2 separate regions of the Homo sapiens genome follow, and region 1 is linked to region 2. The links come from fine-mapping of genetic effects on gene expression. A gene starts in region 2. The other region holds a variant in brackets. All regions are shown on one strand. Distances are between the middles of the regions.

Region 1 (5,392 bases), 340 kb after region 2:
CAGAACATAAGAACTCTAGACAGCACGGGATAATGGTAGCTACATTTAGAACATGGCTGGAACATGCTCAAGTCAGAAGAGCTGTGTGGGTCTGGCGGGACCTAGAGATGCAAATACCAAGAACTACATCTATTCTTCTTCTGCCAGCTCCCAACCCCACTTGAAATAGATTGAAAAATAAGGATGGTAAAACTATTTTGAGGAGGATAAATAAAATGCTAAGGATGAAGCATTTCTCCTTGGCCTTTCCACCAGCATAATGATTTCTAAATTAAGAGATTTTAAGTGAAATTCAGATCATTATAATTCAACAGCAGTAATGAACAGCCTTAATTTACAAATCTCAGATGGGAGAGTAAGATTTTTTTCTGCTTCCAGAGGTGTTACCTTCTTCTCATTACAGGGGTCAAATATATCTGCTGGGATTTATCATTATTATTATTAATTATAATCAGCCTTTGCTTGGTAGTTATCTTATTTATAACTTTTGATATAGAGTTTTTAAGATATATTCTTGACCTCTATACCACATATCAAAAGAGTAGTAAGTTACTTGTTTCTTTTCAAGTAAATTATTGATTTGCTACTGACTATGCTCAGAATGATGAATGAAGTAAGATTTCAAGCTGTGAAGAATCTGGAGCCCAGTACCTTTCTGACCCGCAACTTTGACCTAAAAAATGGCATGTGTCTAACTTGGAAAGTAATTTTTAGTTGCTATTTATTTAGAAATTATACTACATTTGTGATGCCTTTCTCCATTTTCTCCATGAATGGTTCAAAATTTAATTCCTAGAAATCACTAGTTTATAATCATTCCCTTTGATGTTCAGCAGTTCATAAAACTAACAGAAACCACATTAAAAAACTCAGAAACTGTTAATAGCAACGATTTAGAAAATAAGACTAAGTAGAGAATAAAAAATTGATATTAATAAGAGCTTACACTAATGATTACGAATTAAATTCTAGGCGCTATTCAAAGTACTTTTACAGGTTTTAACTCATTCAATGCTTACAAAAAGCCTGAGATGAATAATACTAATTTCTCCATTTTGCATATTAGGAAATGAAGACGCTCAGAGTTTAAGTAACGTCTGTTCAAAGTCACACCTTCTACATGTGGACAGAGCTCAGTCTGGCTCCAGGATCTGTGAGCTTACATGACACAAAATTGCCTCCTTTAACAGCTGAAATGTGAAATGTATTCTTGCTTGTGTCCTCTCAGTTCTTTCTCTGAAAATGAATGTGTTCACTGTACACTTGACCCAAGAATGGAACAGTAAATTTACAAAATGCAAACTTTGCTTTACCATAATTCTGCTAACATATTCCATAAATTCTAATAATTATTAAAAATAACTTCATATAAATGATCCAATGTAAGAGATTATAGTTTGTGTAAAGTTCAACATCTTTGGCTCAATTTGAAATAAAACGAACATGTTAAAAAAATAATTTAGTACATATATAACCACTTGAATGAATGATTTTTAAAAAGTTAAATACAATGGTGAGAACTTCCAACACCACTCCTTACTCCCCATTTGTTTCCAAAGTTCCAGAAACCAAATTTCCAACGAGACAAAAACATCTCTTACTAGATGCTTGAAGACACCTTATATTCAATACTTTTATGGTTTCCCCCAACTTACACTTTCTAAACACATTTCTGCCTTGTTTCATGATGTCACTTAACTAACTCAGAAAGAAATTATATTTTCTTTGACCTCACTCTCTCCCTCAACCTCTTCAAGCCAATCAGTCACCATATTTCACCATTTCTGTTTTTGAAACATCTCCTGATCCCACCACCTTCCTTCCTTCCTATAACCACCACTCTAGTTCTTATTGCCATCTTCTTACCTCCACATGATACTTCTAAAGGTAACAGCTCTAACAGGTTGCCTTACCCTCTGGTTTGTCCCTTATTTATTCAGTCTCCCACGTATCTACCAAAGTTCTTTTGTAAAACACAAAAGTACAAAGCTTTTTAAGTTTCCAATTGTTTATAACAGAGGTTCTCAAACTTTAAAGGGCATGAGATTCATTTGAAAGGCTTGCTAAGATACAGATTGCTGGGGACTCCCCCCTCCCTTTTCTTATTAAGTGAAACTGGGAAGGGGCCCAGATATCTGCATTTCTTACTAGTTCACAGGTGGTGTTAATGCTGCTGGGCTAGCATCACTACTTTTTAGTGTCCCAATCAGTGCTGTGCATTAAAACTACTTGGGATACCTATGTAACAAACCTGCATGTTCTGCACATGAATCCCAGAACTTAAAGTATAAAAAAACAAAGAACAACAACAAAAAAGTCTATTTGGGGAAGTTTTATAAAATGACTTGCTGAATCCTAAACCAATTATATGCGGGCATTGCTTTTTTGTTGTTTTTAATCCTCCAGGTGATTCTGATTTCCTAAAGTATGGAGAATCACTGGTGTTTAGTAAAAAGTTCCAAATCCTTAACATGGCATTTAAGACCACTCACCTGGTGTTTATGCACTTGCTTTGCCTAAAAATTCCTAGTAAACGAATAACAACAATAATAAAGTTTGCCTATCTAAAAGCATGTATTCCCAAATGATTTTGTGTGAATTAAATGAGATAATATATAGTAAATGCCCGCCAGTGACTGACACAAAGTCATGTTTCACATAAATGTTAACATCAATTCAATTCAACAAATACGTTGAGTATATTTTTAATTCAATTCTACATATATGTATGACTCACCCTTAATATGGAAGAGGCTACATTCTCTGCTGGGAATATCTGGTTAGATAAGACAGAGA[T/C]GGTACCTGTCCTCAGAAAGTGAACAGCACAAAAGTAATCAGAGTTTAAGGTAATGAATACCAAACGTTAGTGACTTTTGTAATAAGTACTGTACAAGGAGGAGGACAGGGTCATATGAGAGCTTACAACAGTGATACCTAAATTTTTCCAAGCTTACGGTGCCAAGGAAACCTGAAATCTAAGGTGTGTGGGTGCAAGGGGGGAAACTGAAAAGCGCATTCTAGCCCACCAAAACAGCTTGACCCAATAGCACATAGGCAGGAGCAGCTTAGGTGTGCTAGGGACAGAAAGGCTGGTATGATTGGAGCTTAGAGGTTACACAGGGAGAAGAGGAGCACCAGGTAAGAACAGAGAGAAAGATGGGGGTAGATCAGCCGGGCGCGGTGGCTCACGCCTGTAATCCCAGCACTTTGGGAGTCTGAGGCGGGCGGATCACAAGGTCAGGAGATCGAGAACATACTGGCTAACACGGTGAAACCCCATCTCTACTAAAAATGCAAAATATTAGCTGGGCGTGGTGGCGGGCGCCTTTAGTCCCAGCTACTTGGGAGGCTGAGGCAGAATGGCGTGAACCCTGGAGGCGGAGCTTGCAGTGAGCCGAGATTGCGCCACTGCACTCCAGCCTGGGTGACAGAGCGAGACTCCACCTCAAAAAAAAAAAGATGGGGGTAGATCATGAAGAATTTTGAACTTGATCCAAGAGGAGAGGGAAACCATTCAAGTGTTCTACAATTAGGTCTTCCTGAGGCTGTCACCCTCCAGCTGGTATGCTCCCTGACGGCAGGCGCTGGGTTCTATTCATCTTCCCCTTTTCCATTCTAGTTAAGTGGCCCTCATACTGCTGCATGCACATCCCAAGGGATACTCAAAGACATTCCAGTATGCAAACTGGCACAGAGGTAGTTTAAAGAGAATTAATTTCTAGATCTTTGGTCTTCATATATATTCGTTCCTAAAATTGTACTGAGACTGAATTTGGAATCTGCAAATTATTTTCTCCCACCCAGGCCTTCAGGCTTAGTTTTACTATGAACCTTGTCTTACGGTGGGAAAACTTCAGTGGGGACCAAATAAAGGGATGATTCCAAATACTGGTGTTGGTATTGAAAAAATCAATGATTCTAGGCAACACCTTCTATTGCAACTCAGATGAGTTTTAACCTTTGCTTTCACTGAAATTGAAGACAGATCTAAGCAATGGTCATTTAAACTAATTTATGGTGATAGAAAACTGAATCATATTTGTCCCAGGATATTCTGGACATAATCAAAATTATTTATTGTTTATTTGAAATTCAAATTTAACTGGGCATCTCTATTTTTTTTTTTTTTTTGCTAAATCTGGTAATACACCCACATTTTCATTTTGAACTGGGCCCCACAAACTGTGTAGCTGATCCTGGTCATGACAACAAATATAAACATTCATTTCATGAGAGAAATAACTGGGTAATTATATATGCCACCAGCTAAGATCATACTCAATGAAAATACCTCTTATTTGAGTTTTTTTTCTTTCCTGCCCTTGCAACCCCACACAGAAATACACCCTGACATACAATTTTCCTGCCAAGTTTCCATCTTCAAAGTGTAAAAGTGGTACTGCCAACTGGGAAATAAAAACTTGAAAATGAAAGGCCATTAGCATCTCAGATACACCAAAAATATGGGGAGTATAATAGAAGGAAAGAAAACTTTGAAAAGGCAGATTTTTCACAAAAGCAAAATTTCTCAAAAAAAAAAACTGATTGACAAAAAAGCCAACATGTTGCCTGTACCAGTTTCACCAGTAATAAATAAAATTACACACACACACACACACACACACACACACACACAGAGAGAGAGAGAGAGAGAGAGAAATGGAGAAAGGAAGGGAGCAAGTGCTCTGGGTACTTAACTGATTCTGACTTTTCCACTACCTGGAACTTAAGAACCAAATATTGACTTTGGGAATATCTCTAAATCCTATGACGTGATTTTCACTTTCAAATATTATGTTTGAAAGATTTGCATGTACTTCTCACTTCTCAATAAACATAGATGTTTTCCTTTCAAGTATCTTTCTAAAACAAGAGCCAAGTTTTTTCCTTCTCCTCTATAGCTGTCAATCATATTTATTATTTGTATCTATTTCAAACTCATTTTGCAATAAAGGATTTCAAAATCTTCTCTCCTTCCTCTGGGGGGAAAACAAAGGGTGAAACAAACAAGGAAGATGACTTTGTATAATCCTTTCAATTTAGATCTGGATTCGTTCCGGCTATGAACTTCATACCAGAGTTCTGCTTTAAGTGCTTCAGATATGGACAAGATGAAAGAAGCTCTTATATCCTATAAAGAGCAAATTCACCTTTGGTGTAAATGTTGGAGAAGTGTGAGGTATGATTTACTCTTTGAAGAAAACATAATGTGTTCTAAAGTGTTCAGGTTTGAAATTCTCCAAATGTTGAGCTCCTAGGAATATCCATTTCATGAGCAAGGATACAAAACCAATCCATCCTTATTCAGTTCAAAGTTTAAGGCTGGAGTAAGTAGTGGACAAGAACACGGATGTGGACTGCAGACTGGCTGTTTTCAGATCGCAGACCAGCC
Region 2 (5,392 bases):
AAAGGTCTTCAGTGAAGGTTTTCCTGAGAACTATCACACTTCTGTTAGGCCCCAAATACACATAAAAACCCTCTCCCATCTTCTATGTTCCGCAGCATTTTGGATCTATCTTTTCACTTATCTGTTTCCATCAGGGTTGGGTTTTTTCCTCCCCAACTTTTTATTATGAAAAATTTCAAATATTCGGAAAAGTTGAAAGAACAGTTTGTTAATCATCTATATGCCCACCATTATACTCACAATTGCCAACATTTTGCCATATTTGCTATTTATACACACAGACACATACACACACATACACTTGCTGTACCATTTGAAAGTACTAGATATCAACACACTTCAACTCTAAGTACGTTAGTATGTATCTGCTAAAAATAAGAACACCTTCCTACATAACCACAATTCCTTTTCCACGTGAGAAAATTAATAGTCCATAACATTGTCTATATTGTGGTTGCATGGGAGCTTTTAAAGAATGAGGACCTAATCTATATATTCCCACTACTTAACTTGGTTCATAGCACTTATTTGGGTAATCAACAGATGTTCTACCAATTGTTCAGTTTAATACCCTCACAACAACTACTCTGAAAGTCATATGAATTTAACATTTAAAACAGCAACCTTTGATTTTAAAATTTTCTGCAAATCAGTTTAGTCATTTGCTTTAAATAAACCTGTGCTGCAGTAAGTACAGTATTCTGGGTTCTGCACTACTTAATTCTGCATCACAATGCTCCATAAAGACAGAGATCATGTCTAACTTTTGTCAGACATATAAGTAGGTACACCAAAATTTTTTAAATGAATGGATACTTTCAGACACTGAAAATGTTAGTGAAGAAATTGAAATCGAGGAAGAACAGGACAGGACAATAGAATACAGATTTTGAAGGCAGACAGATCTGGTTTTTAACACAGATTCAAACGTTTACTTATAACAAATGTTTAATAGAGCAAGTTGCTTGACTGTTCAAAGCCTCCATTTCTAACTCTGTAAAATGGTGATAATAATCTAACATACCTCCTGGAATTGTTGAGAGGAATAAATGACAAACTATGTAAAGCACTCGGCACACATAAGACTCAGTTAATGGCAACTATCGTTATTATTTTATCTATCTGAGACAAAAAAATTATCTATTTCATTTAAGAATTCTCAATAGCAAAACAAAATCCTGTCCCAGTGTAGAGCGAGGATTTTACGTGCTAAGGTCAGCTATGCTTCCCACTTCCACAGTTAAGCCTTCCAGCAAGACAACTACTAGCCAAAGGACACCAAGAGTCGCAATCTCCCAGGAAGTGGTCAAGAACCTCGTGAATGAGATCCAGGGATCATCACCCTGGCCCCTTCTTCTTCAAGGCGCAGAAGGCTGCAACGACCTCCAAATGACTAGGTGCGGCAGTGCCCTGCAGCCTCGGTCCCTACTATGAAAAGCTGCAACACATGAGGCTTTTGTTATTTTAAAGTGGGTGTGGGGTTGACAGAGAGAGGGATAAAGACTAAGGCAGAAAATTTTTTAAAAAGCCACCTCTACCCACAGCAGTCCCATAACTCGAGGCTAATCACTTCAGTGGAGCCAGGCACAGCGTGGGGTAGAAGCTCAGCGGTTCCCTTTTAGCTGATCTTCAATTTCTGGCGTCTCGAACCCAAGAAATGAAAAAGGGAAGCCATGGGGGAGCAGGAGGAGAAATCAAGGCGCGAAAGGACCCTCAAAGCTGTACTGTCACTCCACGCCCAGGCTGTCATTCTCTCCAGCACAAGCCCCTCGGTGGAGCATGTGTTTAGGGTCTGCAGAGCACAGGAGACAAAGCAGAAGCCCAGCAGCCGCCTCAACCCTGGCATGATCAGGTTCCGCATCTCCGGTTCTCCTCCGGTTTTGGGCCCTCACCTGCCACGAATGCGGTCGTCACGCGAGCAGTTGTGAGATGGTCAAGCCCATTCAGGTCTAGGTTACCCCCTTTCATCCCGGAGGCAGGGGTGAGGTGTTTGTCAAGAGACTTCAGTTGTAGGCGTGGACGTAGGCTACTTCCTTCAGTAACAGCTATAGGGCCACATAAGGGAACCTCAGGCTACTACACCTCAGGAATCTCCGTCACGCCTCTTCCCCGCCCTCCTCGGGTCTCACGCCGAAACCTCACCGGGCGGAACGATTTCCGGCAAGAGCCAAATGATCAGTCCTAACCTTTCTGACCGTGGTTCCAAGGTTCCCCAAAGGACTGCCCTCTAAAGGACCCGGGTAGTTCCGCTTCCGGCAGCGCGAGATAAATCACGAGAGGAAGCTTAAATCTGTCGTTTGAATTTAGGACCACCTCGGTGAGTGGTCGTTCTGGTGTGCTGTGTCATACCTACTGTTTTTTAAAGTGAGGCGTAACCCGACAGTAATTTCAAAACCATTCGCCTCGACCGGCCTAAGGAAGGGTTTAATTGAGTCTGTGGGGAGATTTTGCGCAAGCGCCTTTGAGATAGGAGGGCCTTGGGCGTTGCGATGTCCCGCGCTAGCTGAGCAGAAAGGGCGAGTGCTGTTTCGGGCCTGGGGAGGTGCCTACTGGGTGTAATTGAGTTTTACCAAACGGTCATTTTCCTGCTGATTCTGAGTGTGGTTGGACCTTGCCCTTAAGATTCCGTTAACGAGTCGCCCAAAGCTTAGGAAATGCTCCCTCACAGCGTTTGAGACTAAGCACTTTTGGCCGGCGTTGAAGAATTCTCCCCATTACTTTGATCAGTCATTTAATCAGAAATTTTGCCCCAAATTTAAATACGTGGCGGGGAGAAACGTGAGGTCAAGAGGGAATCCTGTCACGTAGTTTTAAAAGAAAAATGTCCACTTTATCTCAGTGTAGGTTTTTCTTAAATGGGCATTTCTGAACCAAAGTAGATACTTTTTAAAGTGGAAATGCATTTATCCCATGTGGCTTCATGTGAATGCATATGGCGATGAAGGCATTTTTTTGTTCAATGAATTTGTACTCTGAAGTGAACCAGATTACAGAGAAGTGTATTTAAATTTACAGGTCCTTGACGTTGCATAAAATTGTGCGTGTCCATTTTTTGGAGCTTAAAATAGAATAATTCAAATGTCAGAATTCCGATCCAAGTTAACATGTTGATTGAAAATTGCAGATTTTAAGATGGAACCAGCGGGTATTATAACCTTTTAGGGGCTTAAATTGGTGGCTTTGTTTTTAACCCTTGGTGAAACAGTTAAGTCCTAATCTTGACATAATACCTAACTGCCTTACTTTATTGAACACAAAATTATTAAAGGAATTAAGCAATGAGTTGATTTTATTTGCTTTTATGGAGGGGACAAAGTGTATAAAGCTTAACCAAATGTGACCCTGACATTCCTCTTGCAAAACTACAAGTTGTAATCAATCACTTTCATTTTTTCTTATTCCTACATGTTTAAGTACATTAAGTAATGATTTTAAGAGAAATTCTTGAAAATATGAGCATATCCAAAGAAGTCCCAGGACAGTCTTTCTTTATGTAGTAGAAACCACTTAATCCCCCTTGTAAATGATACCTTTACTTAGCAATCAGAGTATAAGAAGATATTTATATTTGTCTCGAATATTACAGTTTCAAGCCATTTTCTCATATGTATGGGCTTTGAAAAAAAAAAAACAACTTTCATTTACGTTACTTTTGTATATGAATACCAATTATTAGCAGTAAAACTTTTAACTACTTCAAAGGCTATGCTTTTCGTGAACTGAGTTTTCTTTCTTACGCATTTTCTATTTCTCCTTGTCATCTGTCTCTCTACCTCCAGAACCAGCAGTTTGTGAACTGCATTAGACTGTTATATCGTTATAAAAGGATACAATTCGTGAGTCTTCTGATTATTTTCTTCTTAGCACTGAAGCTTTATAAACATTGCTATAAAACATTAACACCATTAATGAAAGGAAAGAGATTTTAAAATATTTTTTCATGTAGGTGAAGATTTTGGGAAAAGAAAGGGTTTTATGTTACTTTAAACAGCCTGATATGGATGATAATACTTAGATATGATAATAATTATACATTACCATATACAAAGGACTTTTAATCATCCTCGTAATTGCAAAAAAGGGATAGATATTATGTCCTTTTCCAAACATAGATACTAAGGCTTAAGTCTATACCTTCTTAGACACAGTTTACTTATAGTGCCATGTATGTGAAAGTGAACTGTAATGTTTTCAAAAGTGAAATAATTTACCTCTGGAATATTTGCTATAATTTTTAATTCTCCTTTCAGGAAATGCAGGTAATTCTTTATTCATTCACAAATAGTTGAGTGTCCACTGTGTTCTGAACATTATGTTAAACAATGTAAACATAAAAAATTAATAAACTCTTTCCATTCCTCATTTATAATCTAAATTATTGATTACAAAAATCACTTTATAATTTGTGTAACAGAGGCCTGAACCAAGTATTATAAAAGCTAAGGATAACAAGTAATTGACTTACTGGTATAGCAGGGGGGAAAAGCGTGAAATTTGAAGTAAGAGACACCAAGTTAAAAGTGTCAGCGCATGTACTCACTTTATTACCTTGAGTAAATTGGACAATCTCTGAACCTCCATTTTCCTACCTGTAAAATGGATATAAAACTAATACCTACTTCATGAAGTACTGTGAGGATTATCATAGTAAAATACTGCATAACTATTTGCAGCTGTAGTCGTGAGTCACTTAGCAATGGAATAAATTCTGAGAAATGCTTTGTTAGGCAGTTTCAGCATTGCACGAATACAGACTCTACCTACATGAACCTAGATGATATGTGTGTGTGTGTGTGTGTATATTTTTTTCTTCATATAGAGAACCAAATGTCCCTGCACATTATTGGGTATCATTTATTTCTCCTACTTGATCTGCAGTGCTAATATCAAATGACCTATATCAGGTTCTATATATGCTCTGCTATCATCTTACGGGACCAATAGGCAGTCCATCCTTGACCAAAACATTCTTATGCAGTGCAATTGCGTTGGCATTGTTTTTAAAATTTTTAATTTTTTAAAATTATTTCCTCTTCCTATACTTTTGGCTTTTCCAGATGTCATATAAACAGAAATATAAAATATATAGCCATTTGTGTCTGGCTTATTTCACTTAGCATAATGATTTTGAGATTTATTCATATTGTTAGGTCTATTTATAGTTTGTTCCTTATCAATCCTTAATAGTATTCCAGTATGTGGATCTACTGTAATTTGTTTATCCATTCACCAGTTGATGAACATTTGTTTTCAGGTTTTGGCTGATATGAATAAAACTTCTAAAAACATACACTTACAGGTTTTTAGGTGTACATATTTTCTTTTGGGTTAGTATCTAAGATTGGTATTGCTGGACCATATGGTAAATTGATGTTTAACTTTATAAGAAATT

Evidence for each region.
Region 1: its variant is fine-mapped to the expression of GIN1 in whole blood (INTERVAL, PIP 0.92).

The regions. Positions count from the first base shown.
Region 1 is chr5:102,781,970-102,787,361 of GRCh38, reverse strand. All of the region lies in intron 1 of PAM (peptidylglycine alpha-amidating monooxygenase), which reads right to left. Among named protein-coding and RNA genes, the nearest start is that of PAM, 29 kb to the right of the region's middle. The variant T/C (reference allele first, on the strand shown) is at 2,797.
Region 2 is chr5:103,116,989-103,122,380 of GRCh38, reverse strand. GIN1 (gypsy retrotransposon integrase 1) reads left to right here and starts at 2,243. Exons shown (of 8, transcript NM_017676.2): 1 at 2,243-2,317. It overlaps PPIP5K2 (diphosphoinositol pentakisphosphate kinase 2), which reads right to left and starts at 2,080. Exons shown (of 31, transcript NM_001276277.3): 1 at 1,893-2,080. RefSeq lists enhancers at 1,680-1,739, 1,790-1,979, 2,010-2,269, 2,105-2,605, 2,606-3,107.